4 separate regions of the Homo sapiens genome follow, and all the other regions are linked to region 1. Evidence: fine-mapped expression QTL. A gene starts in region 1. Each other region holds a variant in brackets. All regions are shown on one strand. Distances are from middle to middle.

Region 1 (5,152 bases):
TGAGCTGAGATCGTGCCACTGCACTCCAGCCTAGGTGACAGAGCGAGACTTTGTCTCAAACAAAACAAAAACAAAAGATTGTTGTAGGGGAAAAGGTGTGATATCTTTCCTTCCCATAAGGGTCATAGCCAACACACCTATAACAAAAGACAGGCTAACAAGAGAAAAGCACAACACATTTGTTTAATCAAAGTTTTAGGTGACATGGGAACCTTCAGAAATGAAGACGGAAAAACCCAGGGAAACCTGTCTATTTTTTTTTAATAGAGATGGGGTCTCTCTGGTTTAATACAGATGGGGTCCTCCTGGCTCTGCCTACCAAAATGCTGGGGTTGCAGGCATGAGCCACCATGCCCAGCCTGTTTATTTTTTTGAGAGAGTCTCGCTCTGTCCATTTTTGTGCTTAGGTTCAATGAAGAGTGGGCAGCCATGTAGATGTGGTTGGACAAAAGGGTAAGATCCAATGGTAATAGACTGAGAACAGACCCAGTCTGTCTGTTCAGATTCTTCTTGGCCTCTCCGTATAGCTTTCCCTCCTCCTGGGTTTAGAGCAGGACTCCTTTGGAAAGGGGACCTACTATCCAACAAGGTAGGGTAGATAATTTCTTTATTTCTCTATTCTTTATGTCTGCTCTTACACAGAAGAGTGAGGAATGGTAATATTTCTAGGTTTTGTAGCTTCCTTTGGGAAGAGGGGTTTTAGTTTCTATGACCTGCCTTTAGTTTCCATGACTCACTTTGGGGGAGAAAGAGAGGTGGGAGACAGGAGGGCAGAAGGAGGTCAGAGAGAAACTGCTTCTGAGGCCTTTCAATCTCCTTTAGTTCAAAGTACTCAGCATGCCAAAGCACCATGCTTTGTGGTATCATTTTCCAAACCCCAACATGGTATTAAGGCACTTAGAGTTTTTAAAAATACCAATTATATCAAGTAAAAGAATACCTATGGAAACACTTCAAAAATATAAAAGTTACATGATATATTAATATAATTTTTGCATATGTATGACTTATAATCTTATTGTTTGCTTTTTATTTGCAGATTTTGTGACTGAAGGCACTGCACTGTGACCAAAAGTGCCAAATGAGTTTTTTGAGTCTGTGTTAAATACATGAGGTTTCCACTGATGCCTGGAAGAAGCAGATCAGTCTGTGTGGTAACATCAAGGGAAACTTCCATTCCTTGAGAGCCCAAGCGGTAGGAAGCGAACAGATGAAATGGCAGTCTCATTAGAATGGCTGGTGATTTGCTCATTCGACTAATTGAAGGAATTCAACAATTCAAGTCGGAGCTACAAAAGTCACAATTTTGAAGCCCACACAAGAAGGTTTCATTTGAATCTCTGCTCATTTGGAAAGGGAAAAGTCCCTAGGATTGCCCAGCATCCACAACAAAGCAGAGTCTGCTAAATTCCCATCATTTGGGAAGAGGAACTTTTTTTTTTTTTTTTTTTTTTTTTTTTTTGGCTGAACTATCCTCCAGATCTCCTGGGCGGGAGGAAAAAAAAATGGTCATCAGATATGTAGGCAGATGGGCTGTGATCACCACTGGAAGCTCGAAGTATTTGGGGAAACTGAAACTGTCTAGGGATAAAGCTGCCCTGGTTTGTGTGTTTCTGGTTTCACTGATTAAAAAAAAAATCCATCTACCAAGAGTGGATAAATTTTAAAATTCTGCCATGCCCAGTTTTCGAAGCCCCAAATGCGATATAGGAACAGCTGTGGTGTGAATTAGTTGGTCTAAGCTTTTGGGCCGCTTCCAACTTCTCTATTGCTCACGCCCTACAGGTCAAGGAAAGAAGTGATGTAATGCACTTAGCTAGGCCACTTTAATTACAATGGAATGGAGAGGGGGGAGGGGTCACAAGCGGTGACAAGTTTAGCGCATGACTTGCCCTGGGGATGCAGGAAACAAAAACATCGACGACCATTGGCTGCGTTGGCTTCCGACCCCGGGTCTCTAACCGAGCTCCAGGTCTGGAACCTTGAAACACTTTTCCTGGGAAAAGGGGTGGCGCTATCCCATAGAGCGTCAACCTTAAACACAAACAGCACACACGCACCCACGCAGGCTGGCGGCGTCCTCCCTGCTGGGATGGGCGTCGGGCCCAGTGCTTGGCACACGGTCCCCAGGAGCTTCCCCCGAAGGTTCCCCCGAAGCCAGCCACAGCTGCTCAGCTCGGCGCGCGGAGCCCGCGGTGGTACCGAGTCCGCACAAACCCGGACCCGCTCCAAGTGAGCCGCGTTGTCGTCATTCATTCGCAGTGTCCGGAGCGTCCTTCCAGCGGGGAGCTGGGCTTCCCTAGTGGCGCCTGCGGCCCCGACACGGCGCGTTAAGGCGCGGCGACTTCGGGAGCTCGAGCAGGTAGAGACGGGAGGGGCTCTGGAGCTCCAGTCGGCGCCGCGGGAGCAGCAGCGCCGGAGCCCAGCTTGGCCCTGACCGCGGGGCCGAATCCGCTCGGGTGGCCCTTAGCCCTGCCTGGCGCTGAGCCGGATCCCGGGACTGAGCTATACCACTTCCTCCTCCTCCCGCTCCCTTCCTCCTCCTCTTCCTCCTCCTCCCGCTCCTCCCGCCGCCGTGGGCCGGGAGCCGGGCTGCAGAGTGCCAGGCCGGGCGTCTGCGGCCGCGGGCTCTCGCGGGGCGGCGACGCCGCGGGGAGGATGCTGCTTGCCGCGCCCGCGTCCTCACCGTCCTCCCGGGCCGCCTGCTGGGGCTTTGTTGTGGCCCGGACGCCGCGGGCCACCCCCTGAAGTCGCCTGCCGCCGCCGCCGCCGCACCTAGCGGACGGGCGGGCGGGCGCGCGTGTGCCCAGGAGTGCGCGCCTGTCGCGGTGGTGGGTGCAGGACTGGACCCACGGGCCCATTGTGCGCCCGCCCGCGGCAGCCAGGACCATGTGGGTGAACCCGGAGGAGGTGTTGCTGGCCAACGCGCTGTGGATCACCGAGAGGGCCAACCCATACTTCATCCTGCAGCGGAGGAAGGGCCACGCCGGCGATGGAGGCGGCGGCGGCGGACTGGCGGGTAAGGACCGTGGCCGATCCCTGCAGGAGGGGAGCCGGGAGCGCTGCGGCGCCGCCCGCGGCCTGGGCTGCAGGCTCGGGAGACGCCGCCCGGTCCCCTGGGGCTGGGCGACCCGCCCTGCCTCGTTGTATGCGAGGCATCGAGAGTCGTGATGTTCAGGTTGGGCAGAGATGCTTCTTTTTTTGACTCTGTCAGGCTTGGGGCCCTCAGCGTACTGAGCGCTCTTTAAGTGGATATGTTGAGGAGAATGGGAAAGAGTGAGTCTGGGGCGGAGGGAATGTATTATCCCCTATATATTGAATGCATCATTCCCTTCCCCTCCCCCCCTTAAAAATATTGTTTTCCAAATGGAAAAGAGGGATGGAAGAAGGTTAATTTTTGCTCCACTTTCTTTACTGGCAACAGCAGGATCAGGTATAAAATGCTCTTTTGTTTCCAGGGAAGCGATAAGTAAGGAACTGATGTGGTCATTTCCTATATGAGTTATGACCGAAGAGAATGAATACGGAAACAGGAATTTTTTTGTTTCACCTAATTAGACATAAAGCAAAGCAAATTGTCTGGTTCTAGTTGTAAAAATAATTGGCTGTATAACTGCATTTTAACTATTTTTGCTCAATCACTTCTTCCCTAAACCCCCTCCCTTCAAGGTATTATTGTAATTGTTGCTGAAGCCATGTCATATCATTCAGGATAATAAGATCAGTCAGACCCATATCCAAAGTAGTGCCATATTAGAAATAATCTCGAACTCATACCATACTAGAGAAATTGGACCTTCTCCATCTCTGTGTTATTTAGAATGAACAGAACTGGAATACTTTTTACAGTGAAAAAGTTAGCAGAAGAAATAGTAGAGGTTTCACTAGAAAGGAGACTGCAAAAAAGAGATGAACTTTGACCCTCCTCAGAGTTGAGCTTATATCAACCTCATATATCACCTGGAGTTTGCACAATAGGTAAATTGTTGCTTTCAAATGCTGTGCTATGAAATAAAGATTCTTGATATATGTATTTACTTATGATTATATTTATAAACTAATTTTCTTAAGATTAAAATTCAGGTGTCATGTGGTACAATGTATACTGGTATGTTTGAAGGATCTTGATTCTACCAGAAAAGATAAATCTGCAGAGCTCCAGACCCCATTCTGGAAATACTTACTAGTGATCTGATACCAGGATTTTCCAGGTCATTTTGTAGAAGTTATCTAACTCTAAATGTTAATATGTAATTTACATATCTAATATTGGAATCAGCCCACATTGTCCTTTTTTTTTTTTTTTTTTTTTTTTTTTTTGAGACAGAGTCCTGCTTTGTCGCCCAGGCTGGAGTGCAGTGGCGTGATCTCGGCTCACTGCAACCTCCTTCTCCTGGGTTCAAGTGATTCTCCTGCCTCAGCCTCCTGAGTAGCTGGGACTACAGGCATGCACCAACCCGCCCGGCTAATTTTTTTTGTATTTTTAATAGATGGGGTTTCACCATGTTGGCCAGGCTGGTCTTGAACTCCTGATCTCAAATAATCCGCCCACTTTGGCCTCCCGAAGTGCTGGGATTAAAGGCGTGAGCCACCTCACCCGGCCCATGTAGTCCTTTAAGCCTAGGACAACAACACAGAGTAGATAATTTATTGTAGTAAAAAGAGAACATTTCCTTCTGCAATTAACCCTCCTACACCTTGTAAGCATTAAGTATTCATTTACCTGTGTCATTTGTAATAGGATGTGAAAAATTCAGGGATTCAGAGCCTTCTTTTTCTGCTTAACATTTGTATTGTGTTCCTACTGGTTCTTAGAGCTATAACTGACTACGGTCCACTTGAAATCTCATCTTGTCATCAATGACTTCTTTCACTTAGGTAAAATTACATCTTGTAAATTGAGAAATCACAGTGATTGCACTTATTAATGGAATAATTGAAATCATTGTCATGAGTAAAAGTATTTATGACAACAAAGGCTATTTTCAAGCAAGAGAGGTAAAATGTTTGGTCTAATACCTTGGTGCCATGTCAAATGTAGCAGGAACATTTTAGAAATGTTACACAATGTGTAGTATATTCTGATTCTAATGTAAGTTCATTCATTCACTAACTCACTAAATCATTTAACAAATATTTGTTGGCAACTTCT
Region 2 (5,152 bases), 40 kb before region 1:
CAACCTGGCCAACATAATGAAACCCCAGCTCTACTAAAGATACAAAAATTAGCCAGGTGTGATGACACACACCTGTAGTCCCAGCTATTCGGGAGGCTGAGACAGGAGAAACACTTCAACCCAGAAGGTGGAGGTTGTAGTGAGCCGAGATCGTGCCACTGCACTCCAGCCTGGGTGACAGAGCGAGACCCTGACTCAAAAAAAAAAAAAAAAAAAAAAAAGAGTACACCCTTAGATAAATTACGTACCTTTTCTCAGCTCCATTTTCTTTATAATGGGGTAGTAATGGAACTTACCCACTTAGGATATTGAGAGAATCAGATGAGATCACGTACACAAAGCATTTAACACAGTGCCTGCAGCATAGGTGAAATTTCCCGGGTATTCACTAAGTACATTTCAAAGTGTCCTGCAGCATCTCCTGTGTGGTTTCTGGGTGAATAATTTCATCTCTCTGGGAAGTTTGGGTTTTGTGGTTGGTGTTAGGCTCCTCAGCTCCTCAGCTTCCATTTTGCTGGTCCTGCTGGCACAGTCACCCATCTGGTAGTTTGTCCTTGATAACCACAGCTCATGGGCACTTTCGGATGGGCAGGGGAGTCTGGGAGATCCACAGTCACTGACTTGAATTGCAGATGGTGTGACTCCGTGCTCACCCACAACCTCCAGCTCGTTGGTTCTAACACTGGATCTCCCCCCCGCCAACAAGGGTTACTCCAGGGTTGGCAAGACGTCCAGTCAAGTCATTCCATCCCCAGATAAGCTCTCACCAATCTCTTGGCAAGAAACCCAGTCACATCTGGCCTTGACTAATGATATTAGTCTTCACCCTGAATCTCAAGGGAGCAATGTCCCAGAGGCTTCTACTCTGGATGTTCCTTCCTCCCTACTCAACTGGCATAAAAAGGGGAGGGTTAAAACACAGAAGTTTGCTCTACTTAAGCATAGCTATGTTGGGAAAATGCATTTCATTTCATACATCAAATGTAAGTTAAGACCCCCGACACAATATCCTGGGAACACCCTGATGCAAGGTTAAGGGGGGAAAACTGTAAAGATTGAGGGAAAGAGAGAAAAAGGAGAGCAGATAAAATGAATTTTTATTAAGTCTTACCCAACATTGAGTCAACCATTCAGAAAAAAAAAATCAGATAATATGCTAATGACTACAACCTAGCCAGATGCTAACACACACCCTCTATTGTGCTTCAGAGTGAACCAGGTTCATCCTTTCTCAGGAGAGTCTGACCATTGCTCTTCCAATTTTCAGTACGAAAATGTGATAAGGAATGAGACCAAGTCAAGGGCTACGGAGAACAGGAAAAGCTGAATGCAAGCAACAATCTGACTGTCAAAGACGAACTAAGCTGGACACTAGCTAAAGCCAGAAGGATAGATTTTATTCAGTAATAACTATCGCTATAGGGAAGGAGTCCAGCAGGAACTGAACTTTAGCTTCAATGAAACAGAAGGAAGAGACTTTTTTTTTTTTTTTTTGACAGAGTCTTGCTCTGTTGCCCAGGCTGGAGTGCAATGGCGCAATCTCAGCTCACTGCAACCTCTGCCTCCCGGGTTCAAGTGATTCTCCTGCCTCAGCCTGCCAAGTAGCTGGGATTACAGGCATGCGCCACCACGCCCGGCTAATTTTTATATTTTTAGTAGAGACAGGGTTTCGCCAAGTTGGCCAGGCTAGTCTCAAACTCCTGACCTCAGGTGATCTGCCCGCCTCAGCTTCCCAAAGTGCTGGGATTACAAGCGTGAGTCATCGTGCCTGGCCTTCAACCTGAAGAAATCTTGTCATATGTCTCCATATATGATCTCATGTTCTCATCCTTTAATTCCTTTTCTTTCATTTGAAACAATGTCCTAATTTACTTCAGTGTAGAAAAATGGCCTCCTGATAAAAAGATTGTAAAACATGCTGAGAAACCTACTAAGAAAAAGATTGTAAAACATTTCATCCCTTATATGTTAATTAGAATATGGACAAAGTTGCTGTAACTGAAGCCCAAAATAACAGTAAACAAGGAGTTCATTTCTCTTCCATGTAATAGTCTGGGACTGGCATAGCAGGGACCCAGGCTCCTTTAACCTGGTTACTCAGCTGTCTCTAGGATAGTACATGCATATTGTCTAGGGTGGATCCTGTGACCACATTCCATAAAGCAGGTTGGAGGAAGAAGCAGGAAAGAGATTTAAGAACATGTCTGGGAAGTAAGACATACCACTGCTGGTCTCTTGGAAGTCTTATTGCTGTAGAAGAAGGGAATATTTCAATTATGTATTTCTATGTAACAAACTTTTCCAACACCTAGTGGCTTAAAATATATCAACTTTTTATTATCGGTCATAATTATGTGAATTGAATGGGCAGTCCCTCTACTGACCTTGCTTAGAGTTTCCCAGGCAATTAAAGTCAGATGATGGTTGCAGCTATCATGTCCAACATGCTCACTCGCATCTGCAGTGCCTTGGTAGGGACGGCTGGAAGACTGACCTCAGCTGGCATGCGTGGAGTGTTGGGCCTTTCCATATAGAAAGGTCTCTCCATAAAGACTCAGGTCTCTCCCTTTCCATAAGACCTTTCTGCATGATCTCTCTTAAAGGGTGGCCTGACTTCTTAAATGGCAGCCTAGGCTTCCCCAAAGTGCAAAACTTTAAGTGCCAGACCTTCCTAATGCTTAGGGCCTGGCACAGCCTCACTTCAACCACATTTTATGAGTTAAAACAAGCCTCAGGCCTAGCACAGA[T/C]GCAAGGGGAGGAGACTGATCAGGTGTAGGTCCTAGGGCGCATGGCACATTGGAGGCCACTGCTGGAGCTGATTATGATAAGATGTATGTATACTGAGTATATGTATTTGTTTGCTAGAGCTGCCATACAAAATGCCATAAACTGGGTGGCCGTAAACAAAAGACTTACTATCTCAGGGCAGGTGCAGTGACTCACACCTGTAATCCCAGCACTTTGGGAAGCCGAGGCAGGTGGATCATGAGGCAAGGAGTTTGAGACCAGCCTGTCCAATATTTGTGAAACCATGTCTCTACTAAAAAAAAAAAAAAAAAAAAAACCATAAAAATTAGCCGGGCATGGTGGCGCGCCTGTAGTCCCAGCTACTCGGGATACTGAGGCAGGAGAATCGCTTGAACCCAGGAGGCAGAGGTTTCAATGAGCCAAGATTACGCCACTGCACTCCAGCCTGGGGGGCAGAGTGAGACTCCATCTCAAAAAAAAGAAAAAAGAAAAAAGAAACTTACTATCTCTGGAGACTAGAAATCCAAGATCAAGGTGTCTGCAGGCTTGATTCCTTGAAAGCTCTGAGAGAAAAAAAATCTGTTCCAGGCCTCTCCCCTTGGTTTGTGGACTGCCATCTTCTCCCTTTGTCTCTTCATGTTGTCTTCCCTCTGTGTGTATCTCTGACCAAAATTTCCCCTTCTTACAAGGACACCAGTTATACTGGATTAGGTTCTACCCTAATGGCCTCTTCACTTTAACTTGATTACCTCTGTAAACATCCTATCACCAAATAAAGCCACATTGTTAGGTATTGGGGGTTAGGACTTCAACATAGGAATTTTCAGGGTGCATGATTAGACCCATGACACTGAGGAACAACTAACAGTCTTTGATAAGCTTTGCAATACATTAACCTTTTACTTCCCTAGAAATACGTTGATAATAATTTCCTCCTTGCATTGTACTTTTTATTATTTCTTGAAAAAAATTGGACATTTAAAATATATTTTCTACTTTTTGCCTGTGTACATTATCTTATAAATCAAAATTGTCACTGGCAACACAAAGTTCATGTCACGAAAAGGCAGAAATATGCAGTTCCAATTTTGCTCTGTCTGTTCTGTTAAAGAGCCTCATATTCAGTTTAGAAAGAAATAACAGGAAACTTTAGCCTAAAAACAAGTGAGACAATTTAAGAGAAAACTTTAAGACCTCTAAATCAATATCAGGGCCCAAAGGAATTAAGTTTTATCATTCTAAGAAAATATGAAAAATAAAGCATCCTGTTGCTATAGAGTTACCTGATTATATCAGGTCCTCCTGAGCCTGTCATAGCAGATGATGTACCCAAAAACAACATAGGCTGGAATACTCATCTGCACACACAGGAAATATGTACAAAGACGGTCATTGCTGCTGCACTGTTTGAAAGAGTATGAAATAGGGGGAAAAGACCTAAATGTTCCATTCTCATTAGGGGTTTGCTTATATAAGACATAATGTATCTGCACCATGAAATAACGCAACAATTTTTAAAAATGCAGCTGTATTATACGTAGACAAGGAAGATCTCCAAGACACATTGTTGAGTAATACAAAGTAAAAAACTAAACACACAAACAATATGTATTTTCTACAATTATATGTAATGCATATACATATATGTGTGCACATATATGTATGTGGATATATATATTTGTACTTATATACGTGTGTGTATATGTGTATGCATAGACATGTGTGTATACACATGCATGAAAGTATATAGGAGATAAAAGCTGTGCAAAGATATGATTCTCTCTAAACAGAAAAAGAGCCAGAATTGAGGATGGGGAACAGTCCAGAAATGATTTTATTTATAATGACTTAATTTTTTTACCAGGATATTATATTCATTTTTATATGTTTAATAAAGATCTAATGTAAAAATGTAAGAGAAGCAACACAGCGCAGTGGCTAAAAGCATAGACACAGAAGCCAGACTATGAATTTGAAGCCCAGATTTGTCACTTTCTACCCATGTGACTTTGAGCTGTTTATCTTCTCTGCATCAGTCTCCTCAATAATCAAGTAAGAATAATGTTCCTACTTCAGAGTGTTATTATGAGGGTTCAAGTATTTTTAAATAACCTAAAAAACCCCTGATGCACAGTAGGCATATTTGTTAGTTTTTAACTGTTTAAAATGATTGATTAAAAATATTTTCTGAAATAGAAAGGACTATAATGGGATTTGCTGAATGAGGGTGATTAGGATATGGCCATTGGGAGAAGGGATAGGAAATCGTAACACAATACACAGCAACCCTCTTCACATTTGACTTGTTTGTTTAGTTCTCCCCTGCCCCCGCTTCCTTGCTGAATTTTTCTTCTTGATCCTTTTCCTATGTGGAGCTACCTACCCCCACCGGGGTACCTTTGGT
Region 3 (5,152 bases), 39 kb after region 1:
CAGTTTATCTTGAGGCTGCCCACCACAATCTGATGTCTATCCCAAACCTTTCAAGCACTCCCTTGCTATTGAGCTGATGGACTTACTGCTCCCCACACATCCCATGTGCCTTCCCACCTTGGGGGCTGCCTTCAGCCACCGCAATCGGTACTATTTATTGAACACCTACCAAGTGCCAGGTGCTGTGCAAAATTGGTTCATGTGCAATATTTCCTTTAATCCTCATTACAACCTCTCAGGAAGATACTATTATCTTCATTAAGTGGGTGAAGAAATTGTGGTTTTTATCAGTTATATAGCTTGCCCCAAGGTCATGACCCTAGGAAGCAGTGGAACAGGGATTCCACCCAGGTTCTTAATGCAAAGCCTGTGGTTTTGAAAAGCTACCTTCCACCAAACCCAACTCCAGGAGGCAGTTCAAAACAGTCTCCTGCATGAGTATGCCAGCCTTGGGTAAGTACCGTGTAACATCTTCTGTATTACCCTTGAGCTATGTACCCTTGAACTGACTGAGCAAATGACCATTCTAATGATTGCTATTTGTATGTGCTGCTTCTTTCTTCGCAGCCAGATCCTATTCTCAAAGACATCAGTGATAGATTATATTTCTAGTGCCCAGCAAAGCTTCCTCTCCACAGGTGCTCAGTGTCTATTTCATGATGCTAAGGATGAAATCACATCATGCCTCCAGGACTAAGGCCATATTTTTCCTTTACCTCTTCTAGACACTAATAATCATGGTGACTACTTCCTGGGATTCAGAACATAACTTTAGCAAGCACTTCCTTCCAGTGCCCAGCTTCCTTCTCTGTAGAAAAAGAAGATGCAAGTTTATGTCTTGACGCTCCTTCCCTGCTCCAAAATTAAGCATTATTTAAAGAAAAATCCTAGTTAGATTACATGAGTGAGAGACTCTACAGTTTTTGAAGCACTCCCATACACAGTATGTCATCTGTTTCTCAGCAGCCCTGGGAGACTAGCAGGGAAGATGAAATATCCCTGATGTAGTGGCAGGAAACTATGACTCAGAGAAGCTAAGTGACTTGTCTGAAGCCACACAGCTTGTGAGTGGGGAAATGAAGACTTGAATCCACTTTCTTTTATTTATTTATTTATTTATTTATTTATTTATTTATTTATTTATTTTGAGATGGAGTCCTGCTCTGTCGCCCAGGCTGGAGTGCTGTGGCATGATCTCAGCTCACTGTCACCTCTGTCTCCTGGGTTCAAGTGATTCTCCTGCCTCAGCCTCCGAGCAGCTGGAATTACAGGCACCCACCACAGCCAGCTAATGTTTGTATTTTTAGTAGAGACTAAAAATACAAATTTTTTTTGTGTTTTTACAAAAATAAAAACAGCCTTGCCATGTTGGCCAGGCTGGTCTTGAACTCTTGACCTTAAGTGATCCATCCACCTTGGCCTCCCAAAGTGCTGGGATTACGGGTGTGAGCCACCAGGCCAAGACTGAATCCACTTTCTCTGATTACTTTACACAACACTAGGTAGGAATATTAGGGACATTCTTATTGCTGTCATAGAAATAGGCCAGAACAAACATCTAAATGTTTTTCCTTAGACTGCTGGGTGCTCTTTCGGATTTAAGTTAAATGAGCTTAGTTTTTCTAGGGGTTTCCCTGGTGATCTTCTGGAAATTATTTGAAAATAGCCATGTTGGTAATTTCCTAATCATGTGGCTTGTTCGTTGTGAAAATGTTCAGTCATTGTTGTTGCTTATTCATTGGACTGTCTGGGAAGAGCTAAGGAGGTATGAGGCCCTGGGTTTATGTGGGGTAATTATTACATGGAGGATTATATAGGGTAGCTCTGACTCTGTTTTCCTCAGGGTTCATTCAGAGGAGAGAGTAATGAAGACCAGAGATCCTCACACTTTTGCAAAGAGGGGATTGTTCTGTCTTAATAAAAATGTTCAAAGAACTAGCATAAAGATCAGGCAAATGTCCTGTGAGTCACCTCCCAATGTGCATAGCTGAATGTACTTTTTTTTTTTTTTTTTCTGAAAAAAGGAACAGAAAAAAAACTAGGTATATCACATTTAAATAAAATAAAGCATATTTCATTTAACTTTTTAAAAGCAAACTATGGGGAAACTATATACTATTTACTCAATTGAATTAGTATATACTAATTACTCAATTGAATCCCATCAGTATGCATTGAAATTAAATGTATAGAAATATTGTAGAGTAAAGCACTATTATCTAAAATGCTTTTATGCTTTATTTGTTCTAATACAGAGCTTTCTACCTATTTTCATATCATAGCATACTTAGAAAATGATAGTGTTTGCAGGGCACAAAAGGTATCCTAAGAGCCAAGAGAACAAGTATATTGCTAGCTTGTCATCATTTCCTGGGGTACCACTGGGAAGTTGTGACCTGTAGACTTAAAGAAATAAGTTGGGGGGCTCCTGGGGATACCATGGCTTTCCAGTCTGTCTTTCATGACTGCACTGTGTTCTACCCAGTGGGAACCCTGAGAACATGAAACACATACTTGTCCCAATCACATAATCTTCACGCTGCACCTGAGCTGTAGAAAGAATCTGTTTCCCTGATCTGTGTTCTAGATTTCATAGAGGCCCCGGCCTTCCACCAGCAAAGGAAAAGTTTTGAAGCCAGCAAGTTCTGAGATG[A/G]GATGCCTAGTGCTGCCCTTGCCCATTTTCAGCTGAAAGTGAAGGTTTATTGTACCCAGTATATGCTTCAGATAAATTAATTTGATAGTCATAAATGAAATATTGTCCCAACAGGAAAGCTGAGTCATGTCTAAAAGGATTATGCATGGTGAATTAGCCATTAACAAAGAATCATTGCCATTATTGAATCATTTATGTCATAGTTATTGAACAGGAAGGCCTCTACGGTTAGAAGAAGCAGCTTAAATGTTGTTGTTTTTATAACTGGAAAATTTTAAAAACAACAACTTGGGCTTTTCCCCTCTCCCTCTCTCTTTCCTGACCCCTCTCCCAACTCCGGCTCCAAAACAAGACAGGAAAGTTGGGCAAAAGCTCCTGTCTGCATCTCCTGGTTCAGGTAACATATGTTGATTCTCTAAAGGATTATGACTTTTATTTAGGGTGATGTAACAGAACGTGAGGAAGAAAGTGAAACCTTTGTTTATTCAAAGAGGATATTCTTTGAGAAACACTGGCATAAAATAAATTCTTGCAGGTGACTGTCTTTTAAAAAGTTTCAAAATATTTATTTTGATATAACCCAAGTCTTTCATTGTATTATTGTTTTATTAAATGCAGAGATAGGTTGAGACCAAACCTGGAGTTGCTTTTTTTGTTGTTGTTGTTGTTTGTGTTTTTTTTTTTTTTACAGCCCCCATTACTCTAAACTCAGTTTAAATGAGCATGTTTTAAATCAGCATAGTGGGTTGTAGAGGGTGTGGGTGTGTGTGTGATTTTTGCTTTAAGGAACTAGGTGTAGACAATATAATTAAGGGTGAAAAAAACGTAAGTTCTTCATTACTTTAAATTTCCCCATTCACTAATCAATAATATAAAAATAATTTCTCCCACCTTGTGTTTTTGCTCATCAGTTTCTAACTGAGGATGTAAGGAGTCAGTGATACTGTTGGTATCCTACCCCTCTGTTGTGACAAGTTTATAGCATGAAAAGAGAATGGTTTCCTGGAAATGACTTTGTAATTACTTTGCAAAGAAGGGCCCCCAACTCTAGTACACTACTTTTGTTATTGCCAATGATGATTTCTTCTCATCCATTATTGATATTTTTTTTTCTTTTTTGAGACAGGGTCTTGCTTTGTCACCCAGGCTGGAGTACAGGGGCACGATCATGGCTCTCTGCAACTTCCATCTCCAGGTTCGAGGGATTCTCTCACCTCAGCCTCCCAAGTAGCTGGGACTCTAGGCAAGCTCCACTACACCCAGCTGATTTTTAAAAAACTTTTTGTAGACATAGGAGTCTCACTGTGTTGCCCTTGCTGGTCTCCAACTCCTGGGCTCAAGCAATCCTCCTTCCTTAGCTTCCCAAAATGTTGGGATTATGGGCATGACCCACTGTGTCCAACCTATTATCAATGTTTTTCAAAACAGGTTTCAAGCTATCTTCAGGCCATGACTAAACTACTTAGAAAATTTCAGTTGGGCCTAATATATTCTGTAAGGGACTTATCTACATTTACAGGTCATTTACATTTATTGAAAACACATCCTGTTACAATAGACATCTTGATAAAATAAGGGTGTTACTGGTTACCGTACCCATGGTTTTGCACAGTCAAACCATCTTTGGTGAGCTTCTTTGTTTTGTTTCTCTCCCTTGTTGGTGCCAGGGTGTTTTCTTTATTTTCAGGTCTTCCGAGCTCAATTTTCTCTTTAAGGCTTTATCTAGACTTTAGCTGAAGATTGCTCCCACGTTATCCATCACAAAATGAAATTTGTCTGTGAGGTCCCTCAGTCTTATCCAGGTGGATAAAGGCTAAGATAGAAATGGAATGCAGGTGGAGTTGCTTGCCCTCAAAGTGATGAGGTTCCACGAAACTCCCAGGAATCAAGCCAGGCTGCTACTGTATCTCTCCCTTGCAAATAGCATGATTGTTTTAATTACAGTCTGTAGCCACTATTTTTATCTGTGTTAGAATATTTGGATGCAAGACTGGAAAACATTATTGCTGTTAATGCCTTTGCACCTTCTTATATAACTTGCTATAGTGTGGAAGGGAACATTTACTCAAAGAGCCTATCCAGATGGAGCCAAAGGGGTTAGTTAGGGTTTTTGTTGGTCACTTTGGGTTATAAGGAACAGGAGTCATTCAAGGTACTATGAATTCAACTTGCTGGGCTTTGTTACCAGGATGTATGCAAACTGCAGCCAGTCTGAAAGACCAGAAGCAAGATAACTGGAGGGTATAAACTGAAAATTCTAAGCTCCCCCAACTGATTGATTGGACCCCTTCTGTCAGCCAAGGGGATTCCAAAGTAAACCTGAAAAACTAGTTCAGGCCGTGATGAGAAAGGGGGGTCAGACATGCCTCATTATACTCTCCTTCCTTTGGAATTCAGGCACAACTGACCAGTATTAATATTAAAACAGAGATCTTAAGACTGACAAAACAGACTTGCTTTGTTTGTTTGTTCGTTTGTTTGTTTTGAGACAGGGTCTCA
Region 4 (5,152 bases), 86 kb after region 1:
TTTAAGATTGTATAGACCAAGAATTGTTGTTTCACTTAATTTTTTTAAATAAATAAGCTGAAATATTGACTGGAGGTTTTTAACACACATTCTACATATTGACTTAAGGTAGACCCAGTCAACAGATGTTAAGCATTTATCCAGGATCATGTTGCTATAGATTTTGAAGAAATTATTAAGCCAGCAAGAGAAGGAATTTTTTTTTTTTTTTTGATATGGGGTCTCTCACACAGTCATCCAAGCTGGAGTGCAGTGGCACAGTCTTGGTTCACTGCAGCCTCCTCTTCCACCTCCTGGGATCAAGTGATTGTCCTGCCTCAGCCACCTGAGTAGCTAGAATTACAGGCATGCGCCACCACCCACAGCTAATTTTTGTATTTTTAGTAGAGATGGGGTTTCATCATGTTGGCCAGGCTGGTCTTGAACTCCTGAGCTCAAGTGATCTGACCACTTAGGCCTCCCAAAGTGCTGGGATTACAGGCGTGAGCCACGTGCCTAGCCTTTTTTTTCATTCATAAATTACTTTCCAGTGTTTCATATTAAACACCAAGACTTGATTAAGTTGCAGTCTCTTTTATAACTCAAATTGGTCATGAAAATATGTCTCATTATATTGTAGCAGACTCTAATGTAATTGTTCTCCTTTCCTGGTGGCGGGGAGCTTATGTGATAGAGTTCTGCTAGAACTCATTTATCAGTGAGAAACATTTTATAAGCCGTCTGAGCATTTATATGTTTTATGTGGGAGCTTTCTTGTTTCTGCATACATGCTCCAGCTAGACGAAGGAATTTTTCACTTTGACTTTATCAAGATCCACATAGCTAACTGCGTTTTAGACACATAATGTAACCTTTCATCTCCTTGGCATTTTCCATTTATCCCAGACACCTCATGACCAAAAGAGCCAGTAAAAATTTTATGTGAGAAAAGGGGCTTTTGTGGATTTTAAAAAATAAGTATTCTTTAATACATGCCTTAAGTGTTATGGGAAAATTCTTTTCAGGAAAAGGAGGTATTTCCCTCTGTTATATAGCATTTATTGCATTAGAAAGAAAATCCTTATGTACAACTTCAGGTGTCTCAGAAGATTCCTTTAATATATATAAATATATATTTTTAATATTCTATAATGTATGTTTAATATATAATGTATATTATATGTCATATATTAACACATATATTTAATATAGATATTAAAAGAATCATATATACTCTAACACATATATTCTGAAAACAGCAGTCAGATGCTACACTTTTTCCCTTGATGGACCCCAGGCAGACCTATTTTTTTAGATATGCAAGAGTTTTTAGACAACTTCAATAGGTTACTTAGTCTTGAGTAGGGAAAACATTTCTAAGTTGTGCTTTGAAGGAAATATATTTCACATGAAAATGCTAATGAACAACTTAAAGTTTAACCTGTCTAGACTGCTTGCAGTAGAAATGAAGAAGGGAAAAAAGATCTTAGCTTTAAGTATATTGTCAGAGCTGCTGCAAATAAACCATTTTTCTAGTGCTTGCCTTGAGATTTGTTTTCTAATGTGCTAAAGAGAAAAGTTTTAATGCGTTTATCCTAGTTTCTAGTTGATGAAAATCCTATTATAAATCACCCGTATATGTCTTCAGTTTAGAGCTAAATTTCCCCAATGTGGTAGGCTTCGGCACACACACACACACACACACACACACACACACACACACACAGTCTGGTAGTTCAGATAATGTTGCAATTAAGCTGTTTACATTCTTTACATGTCTGTTCAGAATAGAACCTTTAAAACTTTGCAGTGGTAGAAGGTGAAGGATGAAAAGCCCTGGAGTCTAAATGAAACATTTGAAGGATTGGTGGTGTTTTGAAAACCATTCCAACATTAAGCTTGGTAAAAGGAACCAGTATCATGGGTTGTTTTCTGTCTCTTATGGCTGATGAAGCAGCGAGGAGCCCTCTCTCTTATAGCTCCATGAAATTTTAATGAAAATCAAATAATTCCTTTATAGCAAGGTTTCTCAACCTTGGAGCTATTGACATTTTGGGACAGGCTTTCGTTGTGGTGGAGTGGGATGGCAGGGGCTGTCCTGTGTGTCGTAGGATGTTTAGCAGCATCCCGGGACTCTGCTACCAGATGCCAGTAGTATCCCTCTACCTGTGACAACCCAAAATGCCTCCAGATGTTGCCAGATGTCTCCTGAGAGGAAAAAAGTCCCATTTTGAACCACTGATTTGGAAAAACCAGCAAGACGGTTCCAGTTTCTAGTATAAGCTCCAGTTTGATTGTTTTGAGCTGTTTTATTTTACTGGAACAGAGTCAAAGAGTCTCAGTTTTGC[T/C]TCAATAAAATATAGGTGGTTCCTATAGAATAATGAAAGTGCCGCCTTCCTCCTTTAGTGCTGCATATAGGCTGCTATTGGGTAATTCTTGGAAAATAATGCTCTTTGTTTCCCACTTCTTTTCAGGTGACAATTGTGGAAAAGGCAGACAGCTCCAGTGTGCTCCCCAGTCCCTTATCCATCAGCACCCGAAACAGGATGACCTTCCTATTTGCCAACTTGAAAGATAGAGACTTTCTAGTGCAGAGGATCTCAGATTTCCTGCAACAGACTACTTCCAAAATATATTCTGACAAGGAGTTTGCAGGAAGTTACAACAGTTCAGATGATGAGGTCTGTGGGAGACACCTGAAAGTATTTTTGGTTTATCCTGTTCCTGTGCCCAAGTGTGTTCAGTTCCTTGCCCATTTTGTTTGATCTTCAAGCTTTGCGTCTGACGCCCAAAGCAATATCTCAGCAATATCTCATTTAAATCTCAAGGACTTTGTATTTGGGGTCATAGATTTAGAAGGAACCTTATAGATCACCTGGAATAACACTTTTATTTTATAGTTGAAGAAATTCTTAAGTAATCTGTTCTAGTTACATAGCAAGTGACTCAGGTCCATATAGTGACATTGTTGAGAATGGTACAGAGGTCACTAAATAAAGTCTCAAACCTGAAATACAAATCATTATGATGATTTTTATTATGATAGAATACATATTGGGTCCCTGTGGAATTCTTCCCTGGACCAACATTCAGGAACACTGGAGGCCTGAAAAGATAGGTGACTATCTGAATGGTTAGAGGAAGTTATGGCAGATAAAACATGTTTCGAAGGTGGTAAGCTCACACATAACATCTCTGTCTCTGTTCACCTGCTCCAAGCTTATGTGGACATTTTTGAGGCGCCAGAAACTCAATGGGGTGATGAGGCTGCCATAGCTGCTGATTCAACCATGACATGCTTTGCATACATGCAAATCAGAGAAACAAATGGCCAAGCACTTTGTTGCAAATATACATATAAAACATGAAGATTCAGAAACCTATTGTGAGCATTGAAGTGCTGCGGCCTGGGACCCAGCCACCTGTCTAATCCCTGCCAAAATGATGGCTTGCTGCTTTTCTCGTGTTTCTTCACATAGCAAGAAACACCATGGGAAAAAAATGATGTAGCTTTTGATAACCATACAGAAGACACTGAAGAAGTAGGTTCTATTGCCCGTGTCCTCCCAATGTCTTGTTCCTCTCTGTATTGACAGGTGTACTCTCGACCCAGCAGCCTCGTCTCCTCCAGCCCCCAGAGAAGCACGAGCTCTGATGCTGATGGAGAGCGCCAGTTTAACCTAAATGGCAACAGCGTCCCCACAGCCACACAGACCCTGATGACCATGTATCGGCGGCGGTCTCCCGAGGAGTTCAACCCGAAATTGGTGGGTGCCTCTCACTTTTCCCTGAAACTTTGTAGATTTGAACAATGCCATTAACAATATTTTTTACTGTAAGTAAATTCACACATGCCTATGTAAATGGAGATTTTCCTATAAGTTAAGCAGATTTTTGTCTAAATATGTTATAACTTTCACAGTGGCTTCATGGAAGGAGATGAGTTATAGAGGGTACAGGTGACTTCTTTTGGTCTTGTTTTGTTTTTAACTCTTGCTTAAGTTAAACCAACAAATAAATACCCGATTTCTCAGCCCATATTTAAACATCATTAACTTACTTTCACTTGGGGGTGCAGACATAAAACCATAAATACAATCTCAGGTAAGTAGGATTCTGACTCTGGGCCCAAAAGCTTCATGGCAGAGCTGTAGGCCATGATAGATGTATAAAACTAGAGAAGAACTCCAGAAAATCTGAGTTCCTTTTTCTCATGACTTCTTTCTGGAATTGTCACTCCGTTCAGCAGGGAACATGTTCTGACCTTCCATCACTCTTCTCTTACCATCCTCAGGGTACTTTGGATGTCATAATGTTTCATTATCCCTTTCAGGCCAAAGAGTTTCTGAAAGAGCAAGCCTGGAAGATTCACTTTGCTGAGTATGGGCAAGGGATCTGCATGTACCGCACAGAGAAAACGCGGGAGCTGGTGTTGAAGGGCATCCCGGAGAGCATGCGTGGGGAGCTCTGGCTGCTGCTGTCAGGTACGGCCGCTGGGCTGGGAATGCTGGCGTCAAAGTCTGTGGGACTCCACACCAGGGCCTCCCTGTGCCTTCAGTCATGCCTCAGGGGTTCTTTCAAATATGCATCCCCCAGTTGAAAGCTACATCATGTTTCCTCACCAGAGTATTGAAGTTCCTCAATTATTGTTCCCTTTGTAAAACTATAGGACCCATAGGAAGCGGACCAAATGTTGAATCCACCATCCTTCGAGTCTTTATAAATACTTCCATTTCTTCAGTCAGGCTATTTAGGAATAAAAGAGAACCTGAAGTAAAAGAACAGAATACTTTGTGACTTCAGTAGTTCTTTTTTCCTTGCCCAGCTACGTCAACTTCATTGAGAATGTTTAAGTGTGACACTTCCTCAGAGCAGTCATCGGGTGGGGAATTGGGAGGAAAGAAATAAGAGGAATAAAAAGGCCCAGGTGTTTGATTTTTGCCACCTCCTGAAGTCTTTGGTCATCATTGGAACCATAAAGATGAGGCCAGAGTCTGCACTGGAAATAAAAGCTTACTCAGATCATACCTTGTACTTCAAGCCAGAGATGCCAGGAAGGACAGAAGGGGACACTTCCATGGACCAGTGGTGAAGAGGCATCCATCTTTACTGGTCCACAGACCTGGCTCTTGTGCCTGTCCATCATTCTGTCACATCAGATCTTTGAGCCCTG

The links. PIP is the estimated chance that this variant, and not a neighbour inherited with it, causes the effect. A credible set is the group of variants that fine-mapping cannot tell apart.
Region 2: its variant is the best candidate, but not a certain one, in a credible set for the expression of TBC1D9 in whole blood (INTERVAL, PIP 0.57).
Region 3: its variant is the best candidate, but not a certain one, in a credible set for the expression of TBC1D9 in whole blood (INTERVAL, PIP 0.80).
Region 4: its variant is the best candidate, but not a certain one, in a credible set for the expression of TBC1D9 in nasal epithelium (TOPMed, PIP 0.56).

The regions. Positions count from the first base shown.
Region 1 is chr4:140,753,783-140,758,934 of GRCh38, reverse strand. It overlaps TBC1D9 (TBC1 domain family member 9), which reads left to right and starts at 2,550. Exons shown (of 21, transcript NM_015130.3): 1 at 2,550-3,019. The coding sequence starts at 2,890. RefSeq lists enhancers at 2,028-2,077, 1,568-2,209, 2,210-2,852 and a silencer at 2,508-3,197.
Region 2 is chr4:140,793,633-140,798,784 of GRCh38, reverse strand. No RefSeq gene overlaps it. Among named protein-coding and RNA genes, the nearest start is that of TBC1D9, 40 kb to the right of the region's middle. The variant T/C (reference allele first, on the strand shown) is at 2,748.
Region 3 is chr4:140,715,110-140,720,261 of GRCh38, reverse strand. The region is part of intron 1 of TBC1D9 (TBC1 domain family member 9); the gene reads left to right. It overlaps TBC1D9-AS1 (TBC1D9 antisense RNA 1), which reads right to left. Exons shown (of 2, transcript XR_007058283.1): 2 at 4,166-4,466. Among named protein-coding and RNA genes, the nearest start is that of TBC1D9-AS1, 5.5 kb to the right of the region's middle. The variant A/G (reference allele first, on the strand shown) is at 2,654.
Region 4 is chr4:140,668,228-140,673,379 of GRCh38, reverse strand. TBC1D9 (TBC1 domain family member 9) reads left to right here. Exons shown (of 21, transcript NM_015130.3): 7 at 2,454-2,660; 8 at 3,576-3,746; 9 at 4,313-4,463. Among named protein-coding and RNA genes, the nearest start is that of TBC1D9-AS1, 41 kb to the left of the region's middle. The variant T/C (reference allele first, on the strand shown) is at 2,328.